Homo sapiens: one gene and its partners. The protein of the gene in region 4 purifies or fractionates together with the protein of the main gene of each other region. This does not show direct contact. Each region holds a gene or a part of one and is shown on either strand. Other genes may lie near its edges.

Region 1 (4,168 bases), on a different chromosome or scaffold from region 4:
CCCACCCCTAAATGTGCCTTTTAGGCTGTTCAAATAGATAAAAATGCCAGCACAAAGCATCTTGGTGGTCCTTCCTGCCAGGCAGGCATTGTGGTATGCGAGTTCTCAGTGCGTGCACCACCCGCTCGCCTCGCTGCTTGTGCTCACCCTTTGGTCGCTAGAGAGTGCTCCGTATCCCTGGGCATGACCGGAGTCCTAAGATTTCTTCAGCCTGCGGACTGTTTATCCTTCCTTTATATATATGTATAAATTTTTAAGGGTTTAACAACATATTGAAACTGAAATACCAGACAATAATGATAAGGAAGATTGTTTCTTTTTGTTTTGGTGGTGGTGGTTTTTTTTTGTTTTGTTTTGTTTTGATTTTTGAGACAGGGTCTTGTTCTGTCTCCCAGGCTGGAGTCCAGTGGTGTGATCTTGGCTCACTGCAGCCTGGACCTCCTGGGCTTAGTTGATCCTCCTGCCTTGGCCTTCTGAGTAGCTGGGACTACAGATGTGCATCATCACTTGCAGCTAATTTTTTTTTGGGGGGGGGGGTAAGGTTATAGATTAACAGCATCCCAAGGCAGAAGAATTTTTCTTAGTACAGAACAAAATGAAGTCTCCCACGTCTACTTCTTTCTACACAGACACAGTAACAATCTGATCTCTCTTTTCCCCACATTTCCCCCTTTTCTATTCGACAAAACCGCCATCGTCTTCATGGCCCGTTCTCAATGAGCTGTTGGGTACACCTCCCAGACGGGGTGGCGGCCGGGCAGAGGGGCTCCTCACTTCCCAGACGGGGTGGTGGCTGGGTGGAGGCGCCCCCCACCTCCCGAACAGGGCGGCTGGCTGTGCGGGGGCTGCCCCCCACCTCCCTCCCAGACGGGGCGGCTGCCGGGCGGAGACGCTCCTCACTTCCCAGACGGGGCGGCTGCTGGGCGGAGGGGCTCCTCACTTCCCAGACGGGGTGGCCGGGCAGAGAAGCTCCTCACCTCCCAGACGGGGTGGCGGTCGGGCAGAGACACTCCTCAGTTCCCAGATGGGGTCGCGGCCGGGCAGAGGCGCTCCTCACATCCCAGACGGGGCAGCGGGGCAGAGGCTCTCCCCACATCTCAGACGATGGACGGCCGGGCCGAGACGCTCCTCACTTCCTAGATGGGATGGCGGCCGGGAAGAGGCGCTCCTCACTTCCCAGACTGGACGGCCGGGCAGAGGGGCTCCTCACATCCCAGACGATGGGCGGCCAGGCAGAGACGCTCCTCACTTCCCAGACGGGGTGGCAGCCGGGCAGAGGCTGCAATCTCGGCACTTTGGGAGGCCAAGGCAGGCGGCTGGGAGGTGGAGGTTGTAGCGAGCCGAGATCACTCCACTGCATTCCAGCCTGGGCAACGAGCACTGATTGAGCGAGACTCCGTCTGCAATCCCGGCACCTCGGGAGGCCGAGGCAGGCAGATCACTTGCGGTCGGGAGCTGGAGACCAGCCCGGCCAACACAGCGAAACCCCGTCTCCACCAAAAAATACAAAAACCAGTCAGGCATGGCGGTGCGCGCCTGCAATCCCAGGCACTCGGCAGGCTGAGGCAGGAGAATCAGGCAGGGAGGCTGCAGTGAGCCGAGATGGCGGCAGTACAGTCCAGCCTCGGCTCGGCATCAGAGGGAAACTGGGGAGAGGGGGAGGGGGAGGGAATTTTTTTTGTATCTTTTGTAGAGACAGGGTTTTGCCATGTTGCCCAGGCTGGTTTCGAACACCTGGGCTCAAGCGATCTGCCCGCCTTGGCCTCCCAAAGTGTTGGGATTACAGGCATGAGCTACTGCTCCTGGTGTTTTTTATTTTTTAGAAGTTTTTTTCTTAACTCTTCCAGCTCTGCTGTTTACTCTTGACCCATGCTTATTTAATTGATGCTTGAACCAGGTACAGTGAAGTTCAAGTCCATTCCTCACCCCTTAGTAGCTCTTGGGATAGTTAATCTCCTTGGTTCTGAGTTTCCTCATTTATAAGATGTGAACAATAACCTGATTCACGGGGTTGTAACATTTAAAGGACGTCTAAAGCTGGGCATGGTGGCTCCATACTTAGAAGGCTGAGGCAGGAGGTCAAGGCTGTAGTGAGCTATGATCACTGCACTCCATCCTGAGCAGCAGAATGAGATTCTGTCCTTTTAAATTTTTTAAAATATGTTTTTGAGACAGGGTCTTGCTCTGTTGTCCAGCCTGGAGGACAGTATCTCGATCCTGGCTCACGGCAACATTGCAGTCTGGGGCTCAGGTGGTCTTCCTGCTTCAGCCTGTGGAGTAGACTCATGCTGCCATGCCCAGATAATTTTCTGCTTTCATTTTTATAGAGATGGAGTCTCACTATATTGCCCAGGCTGGTCCTGAACTCCTGGGCTCAAGCCATCCTCCTGCCTCAGCTTTCCAAAGTGCTGAGATTACATGGTGTGAGCCACCATGCCCAGGGAGTCTCGCTATGTTGCCCGTGCTGTTCTCGATCTCCTGGGCTCAAGCCATCCTGCCATTTGGCCTCCCAAAGTGCTGAGATTACAGGCATGAGCCACTGTGCCCAGCCTTGTTTCTTAAAAAAAAAAAAAAGTCTGTGTGAAAAATTGTCAACCTGTAGTGAGTAATACTCAGAAGTTTTCATTGATCATGTCCTTTATTTTTTTTGAAACAGAGTCTTGCTCTGTCGCCCAGGCTGGAGTGCAGTGGTGTGATCTTGGCTTGCTGTAACCTCCATCTCCTGGGTTCAACTGATTCTCCTGCCTCAGCCTTCCGAGTAGCTAGGATTATAGGCGCGTGCCACCACGTCTGGCTAATTTTTGTATTTTTAGTAGGGACGGGGTTTCACCATGTTGGCCAGGCAGGTCTTGAACACCTCACCTCAAGTAATCCATCAGCCTCGGCCTCCCAAAGTGCTGGGATTACAGGTGTGAGTCACTGTGCCTGGCCTAGCTGCAAGTTTCTGAGGTCACCCCAAAGCATAGTCCCAGTTTGTCTATGGCTTTGTAGGCCATGGAACACGAAGCCTAGGGTAGCCCAGTCCTAGGGAGGGTGGATGCCATCTACCACATACAACCATTTCTTTCTAATCGTGCATGCCGACCCCCTGAACACTCCCTTCCTTTGGCCCTGCTTTCTCTAGTGCCTCCATCTCCCAGAGTCCTCACATTAAAAAAATAGGACAGGAATGGCCAAGTAAACCTTAAGCCTTATCTGATTAATTGTATAAATGACCCTTCTACCCAGAACCCACTGGAAAATCTTTAAATCTGAATTTGCCACTCCAAAGAGAAAAATGATAGCATGCATCACTGCCTGTTTTAGTCCGTTTAGGCTACTATAAGAAAATACCCTAAGCTGGGTAACTTATAAAAAACAGAAACTGCCGGGCGCAGTGGCTCACGCCTGTAATCGTAACGCTTTGGAGGCCAAGGCAGGCGGATCACGAGGTCAGGAGATCGACAGCATCCTGGCTAACACGGTGAAACCCCATCTTTACTAAAAATGCAAAAAATTAGCCGGCCGTGGTGGCGGGCGCCTGTAGTCCCAGCTACTTGGGAGGCTGGCGCAGGAGAATGGCATGAACCCGGGAGGCGGAGCTTGCGGTGAGCCAAGATTGCGCCACTGCACTCCAGCCTGGATGACAGAGCAAGACTCCATCTCAAACAAAACAAAACAAAACTGAAGAAAAGAAACTTCCTTGTCACAGAGAGTCTGGGAAGTCCAGGATCAGGATGCTGGCAGATTCCATGTCTGATGAGGGCCTGCCTGCTTCCTGGTTGTAGATGGTCTTTTTGCTGAGTCCTGACATGGTGGAAGGGGCCAAGGAGCTTTCTGGGGCTTCTTCCTTATAAAGGGCACTAATCCCATTTGTGAAGTCTCTGTCCTCATGACTTAATCACTTCCCAAAGGCCACCACCTTCTACCACCATCACATTGCAGATTAGGCTTCAACAGAGGAATTTTGGGGGGACACAGATGTTCAGTCTGTATTACCGCCTTAGGTTTGGTACTGGCATATTGGAGGCAGCAGGTGTTTTTCCATTATTTGAGGGATAACAAGATGAAGGTCCACGTTTGCTTTTATTGGTACCAGGTAGACTCACCTTTGGCTGCACTTCTGGTATTCATTAGCAGAGGAACTGACAGCCAATCTCACTCCAGCCACTGGAATGCAGCAGTGGGA
Region 2 (4,168 bases), on a different chromosome or scaffold from region 4:
TTTGTTTTGTTTTGTATTTTTGGTAGAGACTGGGTTTCACCATGTTGCCCAGGCTGTTCTTGAACTCCTGGGCTCAAGTGATTTCCCCGCCTCCACTTCCCAAAGTGTTGGGATTATAGGCGTGAGCCACTGCACCGGCCATTATTTTGTTTTTGAGACAAGGTCTCTTTCTGTCTCCCAGGCTGGAGTGCTGTGGCGGGATCGTGGCTCACTGCAGCGTTGACGTCCTGGGCTCAATCCGTCCTCCCACCTTAGCCTCCTGGGTAGCTGAGACTACAGGCATGCGCCACCATGCCCGGCTTTTTTCTTTAATGTAGAGACGGGGTCTTACCATGTTACCCAGGCTGGTCTCCAACTCCTGGGCTCAAGTGATCCTCCCGCCTTGGCCCCAAGTGCTGAGATTACAGGTGTGAGCCACTCTGCTCAGCCTGATTTTTTTTTTAAACAAGCTTAAAAAAAAAAAAAAGCAACCTTAGAGCCTTTCTGAGATTCTTAGTGGGGACCTTGGCTTCCAAAAGATTAAAAACCACTGGTCTAGACAGAAGTCAGAATGTTCTTTCAACTACATAACTTCTCCATTAAATAAAGTGGAGTGGTAGCAACATTTTGACGATTGGTTATTATGACCACCTCTCTTACACTTAGAGTCTTTTTTTCCCCCCCAAATTTAAAGTCATTTACATTAGAACCTGGGGATTTCAGCGGAATATGGATTAACTAGTGAGTAACTGGAACATGTGAAGCTATTCTGTAAAGTTAGGTTTGAGTGAAATGACAAAACAGGGTGCTTTGGATAGAAGGTAAAGAATGGAGGGAGAAGAGGCAGTGGCTGTGAAGAATATGAAGAGGTTAGTATTCTCCCCCAGTTTGGCAGAGGCTGGCCATCTGTGAACTGCCCATGCCTTCTAGAATGTCGGAGTTTTGGTGTGTGATGATGCGTCTGTATATCATATCTTTCTAGTCTTCCATTGTGCTTTCATTTGTTAGTCTTCTCTTGTTTTGCCATTTTTCTACTCCCTCACATGTGCTTTTGCCCTTCTTAAAAATATTCTTCGTCTGTAATCCGAGCACTTTGGGAGGCCGAGAGACCAGCCTGACCAATATGGTGAAAATCTGTCTCTATTAAAAATACAAAAATGAGCCGGGCGTGGTGGCAGCGCCTGTAGTCCCACCTACTCGGTAGGCTGAGACAGGAGAATTGCTTGAACCCTGGAGGCAGAGGTTGTGGTGAGCAGAGATTGCGCCACTGCACTCCAGCCTGTGTGACAGAGCGAGACTCTGTCTCCAAAAAAGAAAAAAGGAAAAAAATATAATTCTTTCTCTAGTTTTTCTTTTTCCCGATGGCTTCTGTTTAGTTTTTCTATGTTCTGTCAAGTCGATTTCTTATTCTGCAGCTGATTCCTACTTCTCAAAGTCTACTTGACAGCTCTTATTTTTATTTATTTGTTTTTTAGAATAGGGTCTTGCTGTGTTGCTCATCAAATTTTTGGGCGTAAATGATCCTCCTACCTCTGTTTCCTGAGTACTTAGGACTACAGGCAGGCACCTTTGACAGCTGTTAGTTGTTTTTTCTGCCCTTTACATCTATACTTCATACTTCTGAGTAACACACATATATACTTTTGTTATTTTTAATTCCCTTTCTCCCATTTTAGACATTTTCTTTTCTTTTCTTTTTTTTTTTTTTTTTTTTTTGAGACGGAGTCTGGCTCTATCGTCCAGGCTGGAGTGCAGTGTCGCGATCTCGGCTCACTGCAAACTCTGCCTCCGGGGTTCACGCCATTCTCCTGCCCCAGCCTGTAGCTGGGACTACAGGCACCCGCCACAACACTCGGCTAATTTTTTAGCATTTTTAGTAGAGACGGAGTTTCACCGTGTTAGCCAGGATAGTCTCAATCTCCTGACCTCATGATCCGCCCGCCTCAGCCTCCCAAAGTGCTGGGATTACAGGCGTGAGCCACCGCGCCCGGCCCCATTTTAGACATTCTGTACTGGCTATTATGCTCCTCCAAAACTGTCCTCAGACACTTTGGTTTGCCCCTCATTCTTTCAGTACTGTTACTGCAGTTTTTGTTTAAATGAATAGTTAACATTTATATAAATAGAAGGTAAATATTTTTGCATTTGAATTGCCCTTGTTGTGCAGTTTTTTGTTGTTTTTTTTATTATACTTTAAGTTTTAGGGTACATGTGCACATTGTGCAGGTTAGTTACATATGTATACATGTGCCATGCTGGTGTGCTGCACCCACGTTTTCCTGGACTGAATAATTGCTTTATTTTTTGGTTTGCTTGTATGTTGTGTTACTACTTGCTTACTTAAACTCAGCAATTTAAACCCTCAAATGTGGTCAAACTGGTCACATAATCCCATCAATTTCAGCTTAAAACATTGATTGATTGATTGATTGTCTGTCTACCTGGAATACCCTTACTAACCAACTTCTCCAACCCGGATTGGTTTTTCTTCCTCTTTGCTACACAGCTGTGCTCTTGGGACTTCCCTTTATCACCAGTTTGAGAATTCCCTTCATCTTTTTTCTGAGTTAGACCCTTTGTTTCTTGTATCTCATGTCCTCTTCATTTACTTTCTTTGTTTTGGTGTAGCATAGTCTCACTTGCTTTGAGGAAAAGTGGATGAGAGGTTTTTTTGTTTGTTTTTGTTATGGGACAGAGTCTTGCTCTGTTGCCCAGGCTGGAGTGCAGTGGCATGGTCTCAGCTCACCGCAACCTCCGCCTCCCAGGTTCAAGTGATTCTCCTGCCTCAGCCTCCCGAGTAGCGGGATTACAGGTGTGCGCCACCATGCCCGGCTAATTTTTTCTATTTTTAGTAGAGATGGGATTTCACCATACTGGTCAGGCTGGTCTAGAAACTAATGGTATGTCTTTAAAACATCTTTACTTAATTTAGTTGATCATTTGGTTATCGAATTCTGAGTTTCAAATAATTTTTTTTGCAATTTTGAAAGCATTGCTCCATTTTCTAGAAGTTCTGTTGTTAGGAGTCCCATGAGATTCTTGTTCTTGGTAACTTAAAGGTTTTCTGGAAGTGTCCTTTCAATTGGGAAACTCATTTCTTTCAGTTCTGTAGCATTTCTTGTATTATTTCTTTGACCATTTCTTACCCTTTTTTTTAATGATGTTTACCTGAAAGCTGGAGTTTCTCTAATTTTTCTCTTATTCTCCTCTTTTGTTTGTTCTGCCTTTTGAGAGATTTCCTTACCCTTATGTTCCAGGGGAAGAAGATTGGGGAACTCATGGTTCAGTATCTAGACTTTTCCTCATTGTCCTGTATAATCACGGCCTTCACCCTTGTTGGGACTCCACAGATTTGGAGCTGATCAGATGGGTTTGTTGAGAACAGCAGCTTTTTTGGAGGATTTTAGGGGGAGGGAGATTCATTTGACTGTGCAAGATGGGCGACAGGGTGAGACTCCGTTTGAATTAAAAAAAAAAGAGAGAAATTTAGAACTGCATAATGAAAAAGTAGGCCACAAATATTAAGTTTTGGACAATTACAATTACATCTCTATCTTACTGTGCAAGATAGCGATGATGTGGCATCTCTTAGGGTCTTACTGTTCCTGTTTTCAGCCCTGCATCAGTTCTTGATATTTGGCAGCTTAAGTGAATTCAGGTATTTGCTTATAGTGACATCTGCTGTCATGTAAAGAAGTACTGCTTGCATCAGATATTGTCCTGTTTACATAACATGGGCTGTGCTCCTTTCTAGCTGTATATCTTTAAACAAGGCATTTGTCTGCTTGAGCTTCAGTTCCCTTGTAAAGTGAGCAGGTTAGAGGCAAAAGATCATATAGAAGAATAATTTGTAAAGTTGTTTAATTATCTTAAGATTGTCTACTTTAATAACATAGTTGGAAGCAAAGAAGGTAATGGAATTATTTTTCTATTATGTTTTAACATAGTTGGAAGCAAAGAAGGTAATGGAATTATTTTTCTATTATGTTTTGGCATTGTACCTTGAATCTATTTCTTCATTTTGAAAAGGGGGAACTGGCCGGGCTCGGTGGCTGATGCCTGTAATCCCAGCACTTTGGGAGGCGGAAGAAGTCAGATCACAAGGTCGAGAGATCGACACCATCTTGGCCAACATGGTGAAACCCCATCTCTACTGAAAATACAAAAATTAGCTGGGCATGGTGGCGTG
Region 3 (4,168 bases), on a different chromosome or scaffold from region 4:
CTTCCACCTCAGCCTCCTAAAGTACTTGGATTACAGACATGAGCCACAACACCTGGCCAATATTCTTGAATATTTAATATCTTTACTTTGCTAATAATATGCTAGAAAAATTACTTCTAATAGCACACGCCGTTACATACTGTTACTTACTACATCTGCATGAGGAGTTTCAATGAGCTTGCCTGCTTTCTCCCACTGCCAAAGTTTTTTCCTCTTGTTTTAAAAATATTTTCATCTCTTGTTTGAAGTCAATGAAACACATGGTGTGAACATGAATATATCTCCTCCAAAATAATATTGTATTCCTCCAGGTAACTTAAATGTTCTATTTATAAAGTATAGCATTAGCATTCCATCTTTAGTTTTGTATATCAATATGATTCTGACATATACAGACAGTTCCTGACTTACAATGGTCCAACTTACGATGTTTGCAACTTACAGCGGCCTCATCCTAATGTAACCCCATCGTAAGTTGCAGAGTAGCTGTGCAAGCATTTCAAAACGTTTTAAAATAATCTTCAAAACTTTCTGAATGACAATAAATTAGCAATCAAGGTTCTGCATTATTTCAAAAAAATGTTTAAATGATGCTTCTCAGAATGACACGGAATAAAAGAAACAACTGCCTGCCTCTGCTTGCAGAGAGGTTTGACTGATCACACTGTTTCCAACCCACGCAAATTGGCAATGGTGGTTCTGAATAAAAATCCTTTTCCAATTAATCAGCCTGTTTCCTTAAGCTGTTTCAATGCACACTTGACTACACTTATTTCGGGGGAGGAGGCACACGGGAGGGGTTTCAAACAGATACATACAAAAGGAACCAGTAAGATTCATTAGAAGAATTTGCATTGAGAAATGAAAAACATAGGGATCAAAATGATGTCACTGAGACACCAAAAAGAGACAATATCACAGCCTGAAACAAGATAATAGTTGTGAAAAGTAAAAATCACTCAAATGCAAACTCTTCAAATGAAAAATGGGTATGACATTTTAGCTTACAAATACAAAATTAATAACACCTCTGGAAACTATGAAAAACCATTTCCAACGTTAAGTGTGGTTATGATAGCTCTCTTCATGTAACTGAGTCAAGATCAACCACAAGCAGGTTTGATGATGGTTTGCCCAACCACCTAGGTAAGAGTTTGGATGGGGCTGATTTCAATTCAACAGAGGGAGGAGGTTTCTAACACTCTCCCAGCAATGAACACATCCTCAACCCACAGAAGCACGCACTCAGGAGGAGGAGCACCGCCTGCCGGGGATGATCTCAAAAGTGAACTGGACTAGCGCATCCTCAAGGTCCAAGCCAACTCACAAAGAGTGGGTCTGTCGATGTTCTTGAAATTACAGACCAGTTGAAAGACAAACTGGTAAATCTGGCTGGCACTAGTGCAGCCAGGCACGCACTGGGCGTGAGGTGACAGCAGGACTGGGTCACGGAGAAGGAGCCCCGAGGAACAGCTGGCATGAGGTGTGGGCCTGTCTGCCAAGTCTGGAACCTGGGAGGTGCTCACAAAGAGACTGACAGAATTAAATGTTCATTTTCTCACTTTTCTGGTAGGTCTTGATGCCTAGTGGGAACCAGATTAGAAGACTTAAGAACAAAGTCTCAGCATGGGTTAGAGTTGGGGAAGTGGGTTCTAAATCAAGGCTCACGGTCTAGGTGACAAAACAGGAAGGTACTAGCAATGTGAACGGCCATTCTTTCTACTTGCCAGGACTCACAGACTTTTATAGCTGAGCAAGCGCTCCTTCACACTCCCTACCGTACAGTGACTGACAACTGCAGGGATTCTTGCAGAACTTAAGGGCCAGTCAAGAACCAATGCTTTCTAAGCAGCCACCTTAAAATGAGGACCAAAGGGAACTCAGGCCCCTGGTCCACTGGCAGAGTCCAGGAATTCCTGGGTATGACACTGTCACCACTGTCGATACCAGGGCCCCATGAACTCATCAACACACAGTGAGGAAGCTAAAACTTATGACATTAAATCACTGGTCCAAGGTCACAACCCTATTTTAGTATTTTTATTTTTCTGTAAGTTCACTCAACCACATCAGGGATTTCAATATTCAAGAAAACCAAGTTAAAGCTTCTGCAAGGGTTCATTTTATTCACGACATAATAAAAACGCAGTGGGGGGAGTTTCAACCCATATAATAAGAAATCTTATCAAAATTACTAAATTTGGGTTACAACTTTTCCCTGACTTAGACATAAAAATGGTAGTGTACCCCCAAGTCAGAATGTGGAACCTGGACACTTGTCACATTACATACACACTTTCCCTTTCCATCTCCGGTATTTCCTTGAAAAATTTTCACTCTTACATTTCTGTCTCAGCCAAAATGCAAAATCACTACAGAAAACGGCTTCTCTTGTAACCCTTGGTACAGAACCTTTACCTCCTCCTGACCCTGCTTCACTCTCTGGCCACCTCCCTGTATCAGGAGACGCCTGACACAGGGCCCAGACATACCCAAGCCTCTGACTCCTCTACCCCTGTGGCCAGGCTCCTGAAGGCTGGAACACGAAGAATCCCATGAACTGGAATCACTAAAAGCTTTTGTTTTATTTTAACTGGCTCATCAGTGTCAATCAGCAGTTTTTCACCTGTCCCTGGGCAGCTCCTTCTCTCACTGCCCAGGATAACTTCACACCTCTGAGCACCTTCTAGTGATTCCACCACACAGCTGTCCCCTCTGCCTGCAAGGCCCTCGGCATCCTTGCCGCACTTCCTTCCCCCTCTTCTCTGCTTCCACCTGCATCTAAACATCACTTTCTACCACGAGTAATGGACTTGCTGCTAATTTTTACCAACAGTCTATTTGTTAAAAATATATATAAATTCTCACTATTATACATTTGGTCAGATTTTTCATTTAAATATAGGAACAGTATGCTGAAGTAGGACAGAAGGTGAAAGTCGGCTACGGATGGGCTGACAAGCCGTCAGCCCCAACCATAGTCAGCACACTTCAGGGCTCGCAACTCATCAGCTCTATCAGTCACTACTATGCTAATGAGCTGGCTTAAAAAAGCAGATATTGGGAGGTGCCAGAGAGAAAAGGAAGAGTAAAATGTACTTTTAGAGAAAGGGGGAGAGTCCTCTGAGGCTATTTCCACTTAACCCTTAAACTTTTTTATTGTATTAACAGCCGGAAATCAGCATCACTGGGTGTGAAAATTTTTTTATCAATTTACAATTATTTTGCCAATTTTAACAAAGAGTAAAGCAAAGCTTAATGTATCAGTTATTCAGAATGACAGGTAATTACACACTGCCACTCTCTCCTATCCCGGCTCAGTTTCCCCTTCACCCCTTTCCAGTGTGCCAGTTTCAAGTGTGCAGTTGCAGGGTACACTGTTCCCACAGGACCAACCAGCAGTAGGCAGGCTCCTCCCCAGGTGCAGAAAGAAGGGCTGCTTCTGTAGCTGGCCTTTTGTCACTCAGTTCTCATGCCAGGGAAGTGCCAGTTCTCTTTAAATTTTGCCTATAATTAGAACAAGCTAAAAGAGGTCCTGATCTTTCCATCTTCATTATTTAATAGGTGAAGCCCTAATATTTATTACTCCTTTTCTTACTGGGCTTAGAACTGAAAAACTCCATTTCTTAGAAAATTCTGTAGTTCTTCTAAGTTCCATGATTGTATCTTACTGCCATGAATCTCATCCTCAATAGTACAGAGGTCCTCACTTATCCACAGTTTCACTTTCTGGGGTTGAGTTACCCACCATCAATTGAAATCTGAAAATATTAAATGGAAAATTCCAGAAATAAACAATTCATAAGTTTTACACCATACACCTTTCTGAGTAGCATGATGAAATCTCTTGGCATCCTGCTCCGTCCAGCCCGGGGAATGAAATCATACCTTTGTCCAGAGGATCCATGCTGAAGACACTCCCTGCCTGCTAGCCCATTAGTCACTTGGTCAACGTCTTGGTTATTAGATTGACTGTCACAGTACTGCAGAGCTTGCATTCAAGTAACTCATATTTTACTTAATAATGGCCCCAAAATGCAAGAGTAATAACTGTTTTATTGTATGATTAGCTATTGCTGTTCATCTCTTATTGTGCCTAATTTGTAAATTAAACTTTATCCTAGGTATATATGTACAGGAAAAACCATGGTCTCTACTGGGGGTCTTC
Region 4 (3,002 bases):
GAATTATTTAGAGTTGTTAAATAGCAAAAGCTTTGTTCTATCCCCAGAGATTCTGATTCACTACACCTGGGGTTGGGCCCAGGAATCTACATTTTTCACTGCTGATTCTGAAGTAGGTGGTCCGTGGACCAGATTTTGTAAAATACTTCTGTTAAGGGATACAGTGGGCAGTGTTTCCAGAATAAACCCTTTTATATACTTGTATTCATTTGAACCAAATGTTACCTGACCCATTGTCTTGATACCTATTTAGAAAACCCACCCACCCAACCAACCAACCAACCAACCAACCAACCAGCAAACACCCTTAAATGAAACTATTACATATAGAACTATCAAGGTAGAAAAACATATTATGGTGGAAGAGACAAGCAAAAATGGCCATTGAAAGGAAAGGAGACTTCTTGTTTTTAACATTCACTAAAAAAGTTTAAGGTAGAACTGAGAGGCTAATGTTAAACAATTCAGAAATATCCATTATTCAAAATGAGATACCAGCGAGGTGAAAATTATTCATAGTTCTTAGTAATTTCATGATCTGAAATTTATAAATCTTCTATACAAACGAAAGGATAAAGCACAATTCTAAAGCATAGAAACCCCCCATCCCCCACCCAAGGATAGTGTCCAGCCAGGGAAAACAACAATATTAAAGGTGCTTTAGACTGTTGGGTTTTCAATTGTGTTGAATCAATTACATATAAGAACAGTATCTTTTGACAGTATGGTGAAGCTAGATCTGTCTGAGTGAAATGCATTATATCAAGTCCTGACTGTCTTTCTGGGAATGTCCACAGCTAAAAATTAAACCTTTAGTTCTTAAAGTCAACTTCAATAAGAGGGATTATTTATATTAAAAACAAAATTAAATTTCCATACTTTTGTTCTTTTCATAATAAAACTAATTACACCCTCATAACAATAATTGTGAAAAGAAACACAGTATAATAAGTAAAGAACACATTTGCTGTTTTTATTGGTGCCTTGCATGGCAGTAATACTGAAAAAGGAGAATGCAAAAAAATAAAATAAAATAAACAAAAAACAAAAACGAAAAACAGGTTGGTGGCAACCCACATCTTTTTTTTAAGAGCACATAAACTCCTGTTTTATTTTTATTGTGGCATGAATGATAACATAAAACCAAAAACATGAAAATATACAACTTATATTACACTATGTGTTATGAACAAAATATAAATCTATAACTCTATGTTATATTTACATAATTACTTATTATTTTATTAAATTTCAAGTGAGATGGTAGGTTGCACATACTTTGTTTTAAGCTCCAGGCATTTGATTGTCTCTTTTCTATTTTTTTTCCATTTTTACTTGTAAAATCCAAAATATTAGAAGGACTAAGAGCTTTAGAGCCAGTGGAGCTATATAAATACTGTTTTAGTGAACCAGTGACGGAAACACTGGGGAGGACAGGAATCAATCAATCAGTAGGAAACTCAACACATCGTCTTCAACCTGGGAAGTTGATAGTTATAGGATACTTTAAAATTAAATACTGTAAAAGCCTGGCTAAACCAACAGCTATGCCCTACAAGACAAAGGGATACCTGAACCACTTTAAGTGGCCTTCATAGTTTTCCTTGCAGACCCCGTAAGTTTTATTTTATTATTAATTTGATAGACAAATACCTTATAAACCTGTTTGTAAATATACAGTTGTTTATTACAATTCAACAATTTACCCATTAGAATGAGTGAAAGTGTAATTATTTTTTATGTTTTAAATGTGATATAAGAGGTTTCTTCTGGGAACAGTCACAGCTTCTGGATTAAGAAAATATCTGAAGTTGGACCAAAAAATGGTTAATTTTCTTTAAGTGAATTAAGGTAAAATTCTACTCCGGAAATCAAATCTATAAAATAGCTTCACCACAGAAAACTTTTTTATATTTGTTCTTTATAAGAGGATTTGGTTCTAACGATGATTATGTTCTTTGGGAGGGATTTTATACATGGTTAACTCTTAACTGCAGATGCCAAATGAACTTCACAAATGGACTTCACTAATTTAGGTATAAATGTGCTGAAGAATAGTTTTATATTTTATCCAATTGTGGTAAGTTAATCACTAACTTATTATTAGTAACTATAAATGAGTAACTTTATTTTCTCCGGTAATGTTCTCTTAGATTCATATGAAAACAGGACTATTTTTAGAGAAACGGACTACAACAACTATAAAAACCAGAATTCTGGCAAGATTATTTCTCAGTGTTGGGGCAAGTGTGTGTGTGTGTGTGTGTGCGCGCGCGCGCGCGCGCATGTGAGAGAGAGAGAGAAAGGGAAAGAGATAAAGTGTGAACAGATAGGTAAGAAAGCAGACAGGAAGGAGACTGTTTATGTTTTAGTTTGATCTTTTGATCTTACTCTCATTTTCTTTATCTTTTTTGGTCATTATGGGGCACAGAAAAAGAATACAGGGTTTTAGGATCCTTTACCAAAATTATAAATCAACCAATGCCAAAAAGGCAATGTAGTAACACAGTAAGTTGCTATTCATAGCACCTTTTATCAAGTGACTTCAAAGCACTTTCAACATTAATATAACTATTTTTGCTTTTGTTTTCTTTTGGGGAAAACTAGGGCAAAGAAAATTTGATGTCCAGTGAATTAACCGTCAGAACAAGAGAACAGAATGCAGCGGTATGAACTTGCTTTTTGTTTCGGTTCATGCACAGTTTAGTCTCGGACATAAACCTAACTAAAATCAAATTTTGAATTTCAGCAGTTAAAAGTCACCATTAACAATTTTGTTTTCCCCTTCAAATAAAACAAAATATAACAAAAAAAAGACCAAACACCAAAGTGTTGTCAATTCATCGGTAAGTGTGTTAGAATTGATTTCAGCCATGAATGCCTTCAATGGCATCTACCTGGAGCTAAAACAAAGTATTCTTGTAGCCCAAACTCATGAAATGAAAACAAAGCATCTTTCATAACATGGTGTAAAGTAAGTATCCAGCAAACGTGAGAGGTGA
Region 5 (4,168 bases), on a different chromosome or scaffold from region 4:
ATCCCCTGGGGCTCGGCATCCTCTCCACTCACCAGTAAATGTGTGTGTGTGTGTGTGTGTGTGTGTGTGTGTGTGTGTGTGTGTGTGTGTGTGTGTGCATGTAAATGCATAGGGACAGTAGATGACCTATCTCCAGAGTACTCTCCAGCTCTGAGTTACTACTCTTTGATTAATTAAATCATTTTAAAGGATCAGAGCGTCAAACAGGCTTTATCATTTTAGGCTTGAGATTCTGACATTTATATTCCCCTGGGTTTCAGGATTTGTTGGAGTCTTCCTTTGCAGTCACTGAAACACATTTCAACCACAAGTTGTTTACTGTCCTAAGTATCATTTTATCTATTTTCCTTGAAAAAGCAAAGGTCTTGTTTTAATTCATCACTCAAGATACGGGACCAATGGTCAAAAAGACATTCCAAGCCTTCAAACGTTTTACCTGCTTGGGGTTCCGGTTTCTGACGTATCCGGTTTGGGAGAGATTCTCACCTCGTGGGTCATGTTCTCATTATCTCTGAATACACAACACACCTGAACTTTTCTACAGCTTCACTAATCCTGTAGGTGTTTAGCCTGCTGCATTATGTACCAGTCATCTTTCTGCTTTTTTTCTAAATATGGGCCTCTCAAATGCTCTTGCTCTTGACAATTGCTTTATCCTGTGTGCTTCTTTAAAAACATATCAAATGTTTCAATTGCAAATTGGTCTCATGCCACATAAAATTTGGTATTAATTCTAAATACTGAAGTTTCACTCCTTCGTCCCCTCTGTGACTACCACAGCAGAAAGCCTTGAAAATACTGTCATTGCAAGTGGAAGCATGATCCTACATGTGCCCCAGGAGACCCCTCTTCCTTTGTGTTTACAATTGCATAAGAAATTCTGAATCCACACTTTGCAGCCACATTTAGTGTCCTGACACAGAGAAAGGAGAGCCTGGTGGAGCTCTGTAGGATGGCTCAGGACTCCCTTTGCTCCATCCATTTGCACAGCTAGCTGCTATCAGAATTCACGGCAAGGGCGGTCACTGCCTTGGGGGATTTCTGATAGTGTCCCAACACCCTACTTGTAAAATGAAAAATAACTTTGTATTATCCTCTACCCTTTTCTCCAAGGTTGCATGTCTCCTATTTTGATCTGAACTGGCTGATCTGCAATGCCCTTAAGACTTAATATCAGATTTCTGCTTTAATAACAATAACGACATTAGATATACTGTTACAGAATATGTGTCTAATAACAAACAAATTAAAGCCCTCGAAATTCAGACCTTGCCTCATTTACTACCATGTCAAACATGATGGCTGTATAGTAAATACGGCAAAAAGCCCCTCAGGGAGATTGTTTACACATGGCTCTGTCTGCATTGGCAAAAAAAGCAAAAAAAAACAAAAAAAACCCAACTTCCTGTATCCTAATATTTAGTATATTCTTACATTTTAAATAACTGAGAAAGAAAAGAGTGAAGAACGTAATTATTGATTCTCAAGTTTAATTTTAGGGGAGCAATGAAAGGATATGCACAAATACCAATGGCCCTTTGTAAGAGTTTCAAATTACTACACTTTATAATCTTTGTTCCTGACACGTGTGTCACATGTCATCTGTTACACACTGTGGTCATTTCTCCCAGCTGAAACCCTGTTTGTGGATATAAAACTCTTCTACATGGTTTAGAGCAGATGGTGAAGCATATGCCTCTACTTCCTGGGTTGCCTTTCTTCTGATTTCCATATGATAGAGTCTGCCTTGAGGGCCTCCACAGCATTTAAAGAAATCAAAACGGTTAATGAAAGACACAGTTAGATAAACACTCCAAGATGATCTCAGGCTTAAAATATAGCCAAAGTAAATTCAAAGGAACACAGACAGTCCTTTTCTTCATTATGAGGCCACTCAACTCGCCTCCCGATCTCCAATGGAATAACAGATATACCTTCTTAACAAAAAAATGCCTGAGCACCAAGGTGTTCCTGCTCACCCGCCCTCCCTCCCCAGATGGTTTTAATTGCTCAAGGGCAGCACAGGGCCCCCAGAACTCACTTCAAAGGCCTCAAACCAGTTCTGCTTCCTGATGTGTTCTATGCATTCATGGCACTGCTTCTGGAAGTACTTTTTTTGCTTCTCATCCAACAAGCCAATTTGGTACAGGAATTCTGCATAGCCCCCTATAATCTGAGGACAAAAAAGACACACATCAATGTGACAAAGGGAGAGAAAGAGACCTTAAGGAAGCCCATTTGCTTGGTGAAATAATCCTTTGTAATTGTTAATATTGTGCTGGTTAGCCAAGTAGGATAATTACATGCACACACACATATACACCCCACAACACACACAACAGAACACAACACAATACAAACACACACACATTTGCACTGACAGCCAATGTAAGCTGACACAGTAAATTGATACGTTGAAACATTTGGTAAAAATTAGGAGATTTAAGTCATAAAGTCAACTGGTGTTTCCCTTATCAAAAGTTAGACCTCTAAGAGGAGCCTTCCATCTGATAAAAAGGCATTTAATCCCCCTAAGAGACAAAATAGAAAGTCAGAAGGAGAAACCTACTGATTCGGGATCAGAATATCCATCTCCAATAGCAATTCCGTTCAGGTTGATCTTCACCTCTCTCACAGGGTTGAGGGAATGGATGAGGTGTGCAATGGCTGGCACATATTTCCCTGCATAAGACTGAGAAGGACAGATGTTGAAATGGCCAATCACAAATGGATGCTAGTAAAATTAAATGTACTTAAGCTAATTAAAATAACAATGAAGGAGCAATCTTTCCACATGAGGTATACCATCTGTTTCTTAACCCCACATTATAGATTCCATAATAGCAAAAACCTCTGTCTTCCAATTCTTTTGTCGTCTCAAATAGCACCACATGACATGAACAGGTTCGATGCACAAAAAATCACAAGTGAACATGTAATAAGTGAACATTCTAATTTCCTTCCAAAATAAAATAACTTGGGAGAACACAATTCTGCCATGTGTTAGGCATCTCTTACCAGAAAGCTCTATTCAAAGATTAGAGGGAAAAAAATCTCAAGTTTAAAATTAAGATTTCAAAATCTGATAATGCTGCAAATTTTGAAATCAACATGTACTAAAGGAATAGGAGAAGCAGAAAAGGAAAATAATATTTATTGGCCACTAAAATTTTCACTTGAACTCATCTCTATTTCCAAACTTTTCCAGCACAAGGTCCTTTTTCAAGGTCAGAATATTTTGTAGATATATTTCCCCTAACAAACATGGTAACGGTTCTACTTTAAGACTGTGCTGGAAGAGCTACTATTGACTCAGCAGTATTTTTCAAATAATTTTGCATTTTGCATTCTTTCCATCAAAAGTTGCCTTCTTGATATCTCCACTTGTATGTCTAATATTAAACTGCACATGTTCAAAATAAAGCTCCCAATCCCCAACCCTGAGGCAGCCTCCCTTTCATCTCATGTTAATTCTGTTTCTCCCCTGCTCAGGCCAACAATCTTGGTGCCATTCGTTATATCTCTCTTTGTCTCGTATTCCACAGAAGTCAATCAGCCAAGCTTGTCAGCTCTACCTATTCTAACAAAATCTGTCCAGAGTCCAATGTCTTCTCACAACCCCTTCTCCATCACATCATCTCTGGCCTGGATGACTGCAGTAGACTCCTCATTGGCCTCCTTCTTTTGCCCTTATCCTTTAATGACTTCCCATCTTCCCAAAAGCAAAGGCATAAGGGCTGACATGATCTGCTCCCTTCTCTACCCTCAACCCCTGCCACCCTCTCGCTCATTCCTTTCCAGCCCATTGGGTTCCATGCTATTCCTTGCACATACCAGGCACATGTCTGCCAGGCCTTTGGACCAGCCATTCCCTCCACCTGGAATGCTCTTCTCACAGGCCCCCATATGGCAAATTCCCTCAATGTCCTATATTTTTTCTTTCCTAAGTATTTCCTTAATACTTATCATTCTCCAACAAACTTTTACTTACTTATCTTATATACTGTTATTCTCCTACCCATACTAGAATATAAGATCCGTGAATACAGGGACATTTGTCTGTTTTGTTTACTTGAGTCCACTATGACTGATGCGTATATTTGTTAGTGCTCAATAAATAGTTGTTGAATGAATGAATCTTAAAATGAATCTACAGACATCTGAAAAA
Region 6 (4,350 bases), on a different chromosome or scaffold from region 4:
GGAGGCAGACGTGGATATGGTTCAAGGATTCACTGTAGAACTCGACACTCAGTAGTGCACGTGAAGGTGCCTTCCTGGGCTTTGCTTTTCTGAGTAAGGGAAGGAAGGAAGCAGCTGTTTTCATGTTGGTCTCAGAAGGCTTGGGCTTTGTGGACTGACTGGAGGCTGACTGGGCCAGGCCATGGCCTCTCTGTCCTCACCTTTAACCAAAGCAGTTTCACTTTCTTCTATGTTACATAGTATGATCAAAGATTTTTTTTTTTTTTTAAAGGGGATTTTGCTGCTGAAAAAGGAGGGAAGGACAAGAAGTAGGCAGACTAGGGGGCCTGAGGCAAGTGGGCTGACCTTTTATCTGAATCTATTCATACAAAGGTTTGGTGTGAGAAACATCCTTGTATTACAGCTGAGGAGAGCCCCCCAGCTCCCACCCTGATTCTACAGTGGGGAGTAACTGTTGAGATGGGCCAGGCCCTGACGCTGGCTTTACGTTTGCACAGTCCTGGGCAGGGCTTCTACCTTCTGAGCGCTTCCTCATCAGTGAACTGGGTACACCCACACGGGGTTCTCGTGTTGCTTAAATTAGCGAATGTGTGAAAGATCCAGTGTAGGGTCTGGCTCACCGCAGGCTCACTGATGGCTATGGCGATTGTCAGGGTCACAGGGCCTCCGCTGAAAGGTGATACCTGGTTCAGGGTCAGTTAGGTCTCCCATCATGGGGCCCTCCTTTTCCTGACAGGGTCAATAAACTAAATGAATCGTGCCCACTTTCTGGGCCAGCATCTTAACTATTGGTGTTTGGTTAATACCACGTTGCACCTGCGTGGCATTTTGTAGGTCACCAGATGCACTAGCGTGTTTGAATCTTGCAGCCATCCTGTAGGGCAGACTGTATTAGTCCCATTCTGCAGAACAGGATGTGTACCGAGAGGGTAAGTAGCAGACCCAGGGCTACAGTCCTTGTCACCAAAGGCTGAGTCCAGTGCTCTGTATGGTGCTTTCAGTATAAACTGAATCAGAGATGCTCATGCAGTGACAAGCCACCTTTGTGCGTGGGGTTAAGCCAGGCCATCACAGCCGTGGCCTTTGTGAATAGTTTGTTCTAGTGCGTGGACCGACAAGAGTCAAACTGAGCTGGTGGGGTGGGGTGGTTAGGATAACGCAGCAGGAATTATAAGCAATATGACTTTATTTAGTTCCTTTGGAAACAAAACCCCCCAAATAATGCCTGAACCCAAAGGTACATAAAAATGACCCAAAATAGATTTGAACATCACTTGTAGTTTCTTCCTCGTAACATGAGTGCTTTCAGCTGGACAGTAGATTACAAAGCATCTCCGATCACGTTAAGGCAGATGATCAATCTGTGGCTGCATCTGTAACTCCTCCTGGGAAAATAATCCTGTTGGAGTTGGGGGCTCTTCCCAGTTGTCTGGTTAGTTGGCCCAGGAAGGGGCAGTCCTGGAGCTGGCGGGTGGGGAGCCAGGCCCCACCTGTCTTGTCACTGCTCGTTCTGCTGGCCCTCTGTCACTGATGCTGATACGGAGCCCTGGCCCTTGTTGACATCACTGATGCACACCCACTGCCCATCAACTGACTCCTTCCACAGGGTCACCTGCGAGTCAGTGCACAAGCAGATTATCACGGGTCTGTGCCCTTCCCTCTGCTGTCCCCTAAATATGAGCCTCATCCTCATCAAGAACCACTGCCCAGAGGCTTGTGGGTGAACAGAGCATGTCCCTCCTCCACTGAAATCTCACCAAAATGAGAGTCCAGGAATAAAAACTCACAGAAAAAAAGGAGTAACAATAACAGCAGCTGTGGATGATGATGTCAACACAGGATACTGTTTTCAGCAAACTGTGACAGAGCTACAGCGAGAGGATATGGGGTGGCGGGGAGCAGGGTTCGCAAAGTGTGGTCCCCAGACCAGAGCAGAGCATCGGTCACCTGGGAGCTTGCTACAACTGCAGATTCTTGGGGCCTGGAACAACTGATTAGGAAGCTCTGGGGGTGGGGCTGGCAATCTGTTTTAACAGGTTTAACAACACTGCAGTTTGAAAACTACTGTGGTAGAGGAAGGTAACAGTTCAATATGTTGTTTCTACACTGAAGTAAACTGTATAAGAAATAGCTAAGAGCTGAAAAGGTTTGCCCCTGGAGAGAAAATTAGGAGGCTGCATTAAAAAAAATCAGTCTAGGTCGGGCATGGTGGCTCACGCCTGTAATCTCAGCACTTTGGGAGGCTGAGATGGGTGGATCACCTGAGGCCAGGAGTTCGCGACCAGCCTGAACTGGTGAAACCCCATCTCATCTCTACTAAAAATACACACAAAAAAACTAGCAGCCACCTGTAATCTCCCAGCTACTGGGGAGGCTGAGGCAGGAGAATCGCTTGAACCCAGGAGGCGGAGGTTGCAGTGAGCCGAGACTGCGCCACTGCACTCCAGCCTGGACGACAGAGCGAGACTCGATCTCAAAAAACAAAACAAAAAACAAAAACAATCTAAACCTATGTACATATATTAGTTTGATTAAAAATGAAAATAACGATTTTGATTTTAAGAACTCTTGCTTTAGGGACAAACTATTCACTCAACACACTGCAGAATGCTCTGGGATTGAAAACATACTAAGTCCTTTAGGTAAGGGTGCTATGGAGACAGCGAAAGGAAACAGGCTTGTAAAGAAGAGCAAGAAGCCTAAATGCACAGTGACGGGCCCCACAACACTGCGTGCACAGCCAGGCACTTGCTTACAGCCTTGTAAAAAAGTCACTGGGGGCCTGCTTGAGGCAATCTGGGTCCCTTGGTCTGCCCTGAGTGCCATCAACCTGGGTTCTGGTCCTGACTCTGGCACTCACTAGAAATATGGCTTTGAGAGGGGGCCTGCTAGATCTTTCTGGGACCACTGTAGATGAAAGGGACCCTCGGCCAGAAAAGCCGCCTGCAGAGGCTCTCAAGATCTGCACACCCATGTTCACAGCCACACTATTCGCAATAGCTAAGAGGTGGCAGCAGCCCAGGTGCCCTTTGGTGGAGGAATAAGTGTAGAAACAGGGTGTGGGCTGTCTATACAATGCAACACTACTTAGCTTTACAAAGGAAGGAATTCTGACACATGCTACGTACAGCATGGAGGAACCTTAAGGGCATACTGCTAGTGACATAGTCGCAAAAGGACAAATACTGTATGATTCCACTTAGATAGGTCGCTAGAGCAGTCACATTCACATAGACAGAAAGGAGAAGGGTGGCTGCCAGGGCTGGGGAGGGGCAATGGGGAAGGGAGTTATTTAATGGGTACAGAGTTTCAATTTTGCAGCTGAAAAGAGTTCTGGAGACCAGCTGCTTCTCTGCCTTGCCTGTGTTGGTTGTGCCGTGAGCCACACAAATGAAAGGTAAGACATGGAGCCAAAGTGGCCACTGGGAAACAGTAAAAGACCAACATAGGCAAGGGAGAGAAGCAGCAAGGGCTGGCAGGATCCAGACCAACTCGCACTTCAGGCGCAGAGCAGATGTGCCTGAAAACGCAGCACAGCCACTCCACGTGGAACTGACCCTGCGGCGTTAGAGATCCTCTGTCTTATAGGGGAATTCAGCTGGGCAGATGGCTATGGCTTGTTACTGCTTCCTTTCTGCGGGTAGCTTTTTTCCTTCTAATTGTAAAATACACGTCACATAAAATGACCTTGGCCACTTTTAACTGCACAGTCCAGTTGTGTGAAGTACATTTGGGTCCCTGAGCAGCTGGTCTCCAGAACTCTTTCAGCTGCAAAATGCAAACTCTTCCAGTGCACCCACTGTGTACCTGCCTCTTACCAGCATAACAAGTATTCATAAACTCTAAAGGTTTTTAAAAAGCCTTTTCAGTGTTATGGACAAAAAATATCCCCAATCTTCTTCTGTTTATGGGTTCTTATACACTTGCCTTTTTGGCACAGCTAACTGAACATCACCATGAGGTGACCAAATGCTTAGTAGGGTGATGGGCCTGACTGGCTCTGCCACCTCATAGTTTTGGGACCCCCATGCAAGTCAAATCGCCTCTGTCAGCTTCTTTCCTCATCTGTGAAAGGGGGACGTGTTAATACTACCTCAGGGGCTGTGACATTAATGATGTAACTAAGAGGCACACTCAAAACGCAGTCCTGGCTAAGGCTCCTGCCCAGCCTGCAGTCAGATGGGAATGTCAAGTGCCCTCTCTAGTGGGCGGGGTGAAGACCAACAGGCTGTGTCCACCATGCCACGGGGAATGGGTATGTACCTTATTGTCTCCACCAGAGACAGCCAGGATGTTGGCTGTGATGGACCAGCTCACATGCCACACCACATCGTTGAACTTGTGCAACAA
Region 7 (4,889 bases), on a different chromosome or scaffold from region 4:
CCAGCCAGGTGGAAGGCGCCCCGCTTGCAGCAAGGTAACGCGCAGCAGCCCCAGCCGTCCGCAGTGAAACAGCCGGAGCAGAAGATACTTTTATTTCTCGGCCCGTATTAACACTCAGCTCTACAAAATAACCTATAGGTTTTAACTTCCTTCTCTTTCATTGAAAAAGGTTCCTTGAAAAATCCTGTCCTCCCATTCCCCGGGGTTCCCTTACTTTTAGTTCATACAGATAATTTCCCTGTCAGATTTCCTCATTGCATTTTGAACTCATAAAACATGCACATAAAAATAGCATGTTACAAATTTATGGAGAAAATGGGCTCTGTCTCTTAAATTTGTTGACTCGAAACATTTTGGGTGGGGGGTCTTTTTTCGTTTTTAGAAGAAAGGCTTTTTAGAAAACTATGTACATAATCTGACTTCTCCTCCCCGCATTGCAACGCCGAAAATAAAATTTTTCACAATGCATTTACAAGAAATAATACAAAACCCAAAAAAAAAAATGGAAATGCTCAGATACATAAAGTTTTACAAAACCCAGAATATAACTCCGCCGTCTGAAGGAGGGGGTGGTGGTGGTAATCTCTTTGTATAAATTAACAAACCAACCCAAAAGAGCGGTAACAACTACAAAAAACTTGTAAGTGCTTGGACCTGCCTTACTACATTTATAACAAATGCGACGAGCTCCGCGTCACTTGGGCTCCGGCGGTCGGCGCCGTCCGGAAGCAACGCGGAGGAAAGTGAGCGCGCCGGCCGGTATACAAAAGTGGGCTTCGCCTCTCGCCTCGTTTTGACTTTTTTGTCCCCTCGAGCAAAGAAAACGCTTTCCGCTTCCTCCGTAGGTGATAAATACTGTACAAAAAGTCTCAAGAAAACACCGAAGTTCAGTCTAAAACCCAAGTCTGGTGTCAGCGCCCGGCGGTCGCCAGGGTCTCCGGGGAAGGTGAGTGGGGGACACGCGTCACCCGGCGTTCGTCTCCAGTATTTTCCTTTTGACAAGAATGTGGGAACGTCTGTACAAAAGCCACGCCGCGCCGGGGCGGGGCGGGAGCCGGGCGCGGGCCGCGAGCTCGTGGGTCGCCGCCGCAGAGTCCCCGGCGTCCCGAAGGCGCTAGATGTGCGTCAGGGGCACCGTGCCGTTCACGCCCGCGCCCGCGCCCTGGTAGTGCTGCGGCAGCGAGTGCAGCCGGCTCTGCGCCGCGGCCGCTGCTGCCGCCGCCGGGTCGCCCCCCTCGCCGGCGGGCAAGTACATGCTGATCATCTCGCGCAGGTCCCCGGGGCACGGCGCCCGCGAGTGCGCTGGGGCGGGCGGGCTGCCGCTGGGCTCCGACTTCACCAGAGAGCCCAGCGCGCCCAGGGCGCCCGACGACGCGGCCGCCGCCGCCGCCGCCGCCGCCACGGCCGAGTTCTGGTGCGCGCCGCCCGCAGCGGCGGCGGCGGCGGCCGCGGCGCCGTAGGGGAGGCCGCCGTAGCCCGAGGGCGACGCGCTCATGTAGCCCTGCGAGTTGGAGATGGGGCTGTACTGCAGCGCGCCCATGTCGTAGCGGTGCATGGGCTGCGGGTTGTGCGGGTGCGCGTGCGGGTGGTGCGGGTGCGGGTGCGCGGGGTGCGCGTGCGGGTGCGCGCCGCCCGCGCCCGGGTGCTGCCCGTAGGCCAGCTGCGCCTCCTGCATCATGGCCGCGGCCGCCGCCGCCGCCGCCACCGAGCCGGGGTAGGCGCCGTTGGCCCAGCCGTTGACGTGCGCGTAGCCGCCGCCCGCCGCGCCGCCTGGGCTCTCCAGGCGCTGGCCCACGGCCGCCGCGCCCACGCCCACGCCCACGCCCATGGCCACAGCCGCGCCGCCGCCACCCGCGCCGGCCGCCAGGAGCCCGCCGGCCAGCGAGTACTTGTCCTTCTTGAGCAGCGTCTTGGTCTTGCGGCGCGGCCGGTACTTGTAATCCGGGTGCTCCTTCATGTGCAGCGCGCGCAGCCGCTTGGCCTCGTCGATGAACGGCCGCTTCTCGGCCTCGGACATGACCTTCCACTCGGCCCCCAGGCGCTTGCTGATCTCCGAGTTGTGCATCTTGGGGTTCTCCTGGGCCATCTTGCGCCGCTGCCCGCGGGACCACACCATGAAGGCGTTCATGGGCCGTTTGACCCGGTCCTGGTTGGCCTTGGCGCCCCCGCCGCCGCCGCCGCCCCCGCCTCCGCCCCCGCCGCCGCCCGCCCCGGCGGGGCCCGAGAGGTTCGTGGGGGCCTGGGCGCCGCCGGGCGAGTGCAGGTCGGTCTCCATCATCATGCTGTACATCGGGGCGGCTGGCGGGTTCACCGGCACCGCGAGGAGAGGGCCTGGAGCATAGACGGCCGGGGTGGGAGGGAGACGGAGAGGAATTCAGACGGAGTGAGACGGGGGCGGGGGGGTCCTAGCGGAGAGAAGAATGGGGAGGGGTGGAGGCAACGACAACAAAAAAAGGCAGAAACACACGCACTCGGCGCCGGTTCGGCTCGCAGGTGGAAAGTTTCTCCTGATGCACAAACCACTTGCCAAAGAGGCCGACGGTCGGGGTCGCCGTCTTCGCCGCCACCGCAGCCCAGGCGCCCTCGGCGGAGCGGTGCAAACAGGTGCAGTCGTGGCCAAGTTGCAGCTCCGCTTTTGGGGCCGGGAGCGGTGCGCTGGGCCCGGCCCGGGGTGTGCTGTCTCCTCGCCGGCCGCCGCTGCGCGCTGTCTCCTTCCTCCTGCGCTCGGTCCTCAGCGGCCTCCAACTCGGAGGCTGCAACTTCTAGCAGGGCGGCGCGCCGCGTGCGCTGGGCATGTGCTGGTCCCAGGTGCCCGGGGGAAGCCAGGCGCCAGTGGCGGGGGGGGGGAGGCGCAGGGGGGCCTGCAGGGGGCGATTACGGTGCAGCCAGGGAGGGGCCCGGGGACAGCGGGAGGAGCGCGGGCTCGCGGAGAGGGCCGGAGAGCCGGGGCCGCCGAGCCCGGGATGGGCTGCCCGCTGCCTGCCCGGGGCCGTGCGCTCGGAGCGGAGGCGCACGCGGGGCCGGCGGCGCGCGGGGCCCAGCAGCCATACGCCGGGCCCGGGCTGCCATTAAATGAGCGCGCCGCGGCCAATGGGAGCCGGCGGCGGCGGTGATTTGCATGGCGCGCTGGCGAGTGACGTGGGGAGGGAGTAGATACACTGGGCGCGGGCGGCGGAGCGGGGAGGAGGGGAGGAAGGAGGGGGAGCAAAGCAGGAAGGAGGGGGGAGGAGGCCCGGGAGGGGGTGACAGCCACACCGCTTCCTGAGCGCGCGCGCGCGGCGGCGGCGGCGGCGGCGAACCCCGAGCTCGCCCTCCTCGCCGCTCCCCGCCCGCGCGTTCCGAATGATTAACGATTGGGTTGAAAAGCGAAGACTAAGAAAGGATCGTCGTGGGGTGGGGGGAGGAAACGCAGCCCCTGGCCAGGTTTAAACGGGCGCAGTGGAGACCCAGCTCCTCCTCTGCCCCCGCCGGCCAACTCTGTGCCTGCAGGGAAGGGGAAAGTTGAGTGCGGGGCTGGCACGTCGCCCTCAGTTCCCCCGAGTGCTGAAAAGGAGGGGCGCTCCCTTGGACGCAGGGGATACCCTCCGAGGGCCCCTGCAGGTTCTCTGCAAGGATCAGGCGGCTCAGCCATCCCCCGCCCTGCATCCGTTCTCGGCCGCGGCGTGCACTGAAGTTCGCCAGTGCCCGCTCTTGCAGCGAAGGCCTTCACAGTCCAGGCCCCACAATTCGGGTAAAGGGGGAGTATTTGTGTGGGCATGGCTCCATAGCTTCGTTTAGTATCAGCCCTAAACTTTTGTGGGGAGGAGTCTTTCAATGAGCCCGGGGCCATAGTCACGCACTCTTCCCAACCCGGATCTTCTTCCTCTGGAAAAGGAATTTCTAGGAAGGCCGAACACAACAAGATCTATCTGGAATCTAGTTCCTGAACAACAGTTGAAAAAGTTTGTTGAATCGCAAAATAATGATATGGCGCACGCTTTTCTGGAGTGAATTTCCCACGAGCTGGTTGCCTAAGAACGGAGAAAACTGCGTGAACTGCGCGGGGCCACATAAACCGAATGAAAGGCGGGGCCTCAGGACGGGTCTCAGCCGCCGGTCTGCGTCATGCAAAGGAAAGGCCTGGCTCGTGGAAAGAGTAAGGCATTCACCTGTGGTTATCATTCTTAAACCTCAAAGTGGCTTTGATTTGGGAACGTGAAAGAGATTTTCAAACGCAGTCTCAAGTAGCATAGCGCTCACACTACCGTTTCCACCAGACTGATCTGAAAGTGGTCCAAAGACGACTTTTGAGCCCAAGTATTCCTCCTCTGCCCTCCCCGAGGCACCCTGAGATGAGAGTGCTTGTGGAGATTGGTGGTGGGTAAAGTAGAACCTTCACCGCATGTCACATGTCTGCCTGTCTTGTAGTAGGAATATTCAGTAAAGATGATGATAACGGTAATAGGAGTAATAGGATGTTTGAGTCTGTTGGGCAGCGAACACGTGACACCTTTTTTTTCCTCTTAAAAAAACTTCTGAGGTTGTGAATTTCTTGACCCTGTTGCTTGTCCAAGGTAAAAGAATAATGCTTTATTTCCTCTCAATTGCTATGATTATTACTGTAGGGTTTGTTTTATTATTGCAGGGTTGCTACAGTGTGAAGTGCAACAGCAAATTGATCTCTCTGCAGATTAAACTGCTTTCATTCCAGGCCATTCAGCATTTACTAGTAAATCCATCAAGTAATATATAATTATATTAGAAAGGGAACATCATTTTATATTTATTTTTTCACTAAATATCTAGGTTATAAACTGGGCTTCCAACTACCTTCTTATTTCACCAGTCGAGTTTGTTAAATCTTTTGATTTGTTACATGCACTACCTACAAATATCAGTTACATTGTGAA

Evidence for each region.
Region 1: the proteins of SOX5 (region 4) and POLDIP3 purify together in Homo sapiens (affinity purification with mass spectrometry; one large-scale study listed by BioGRID and IntAct). This does not show direct contact.
Region 2: the proteins of SOX5 (region 4) and RGPD8 purify together in Homo sapiens (affinity purification with mass spectrometry; one large-scale study listed by BioGRID and IntAct). This does not show direct contact.
Region 3: the proteins of SOX5 (region 4) and RBM33 purify together in Homo sapiens (affinity purification with mass spectrometry; one large-scale study listed by BioGRID and IntAct). This does not show direct contact.
Region 5: the proteins of SOX5 (region 4) and CPVL purify together in Homo sapiens (affinity purification with mass spectrometry; one large-scale study listed by BioGRID and IntAct). This does not show direct contact.
Region 6: the proteins of SOX5 (region 4) and SEC13 purify together in Homo sapiens (affinity purification with mass spectrometry; one large-scale study listed by BioGRID and IntAct). This does not show direct contact.
Region 7: the proteins of SOX5 (region 4) and SOX1 purify together in Homo sapiens (affinity purification with mass spectrometry; 2 studies listed by BioGRID and IntAct, with this or other methods). This does not show direct contact.

Annotation. Positions count from the first base shown.
Region 1 is NC_000022.11:42,604,623-42,608,790, reverse strand, and holds part of POLDIP3 (polymerase delta-interacting protein 3), read left to right. Parts: exon of another isoform or gene 1-56; intron 57-4,168. UniProt on the Homo sapiens protein: Is involved in regulation of translation. Is preferentially associated with CBC-bound spliced mRNA-protein complexes during the pioneer round of mRNA translation. Contributes to enhanced translational efficiency of spliced over nonspliced mRNAs.
Region 2 is NC_000002.12:112,426,943-112,431,110, reverse strand, and holds part of RGPD8 (RANBP2-like and GRIP domain-containing protein 8), read left to right. Parts: intron 1-4,168.
Region 3 is NC_000007.14:155,731,313-155,735,480, reverse strand, and holds part of RBM33 (RNA-binding protein 33), read right to left. Parts: intron 1-4,168. UniProt on the Homo sapiens protein: RNA reader protein, which recognizes and binds specific RNAs, thereby regulating RNA metabolic processes, such as mRNA export, mRNA stability and/or translation.
Region 4 is NC_000012.12:23,528,552-23,531,553, forward strand, and holds the end of SOX5 (transcription factor SOX-5), read right to left. Parts: 3' UTR 953-3,002; downstream 1-952.
Region 5 is NC_000007.14:29,069,732-29,073,899, forward strand, and holds part of CPVL (probable serine carboxypeptidase CPVL isoform b precursor), read right to left. Parts: intron 2,735-4,168; coding exon of another isoform or gene 2,693-2,734; coding exon 2,570-2,692; intron 2,174-2,569; coding exon 2,042-2,173; intron 1-2,041. UniProt on the Homo sapiens protein: May be involved in the digestion of phagocytosed particles in the lysosome, participation in an inflammatory protease cascade, and trimming of peptides for antigen presentation.
Region 6 is NC_000003.12:10,299,763-10,304,112, forward strand, and holds the end of SEC13 (protein SEC13 homolog), read right to left. Parts: coding exon 4,264-4,350; intron 1,613-4,263; coding exon 1,499-1,612; 3' UTR 1,386-1,498; coding exon of another isoform or gene 1,344-1,385; 3' UTR 1,169-1,343; downstream 1-1,168. UniProt on the Homo sapiens protein: Functions as a component of the nuclear pore complex (NPC) and the COPII coat. At the endoplasmic reticulum, SEC13 is involved in the biogenesis of COPII-coated vesicles.
Region 7 is NC_000013.11:112,065,060-112,069,948, reverse strand, and holds the start of SOX1 (transcription factor SOX-1), read right to left. Parts: upstream 2,801-4,889; 5' UTR 2,291-2,800; coding exon 1,115-2,290; 3' UTR 1-1,114. UniProt on the Homo sapiens protein: Transcriptional activator. May function as a switch in neuronal development. Keeps neural cells undifferentiated by counteracting the activity of proneural proteins and suppresses neuronal differentiation.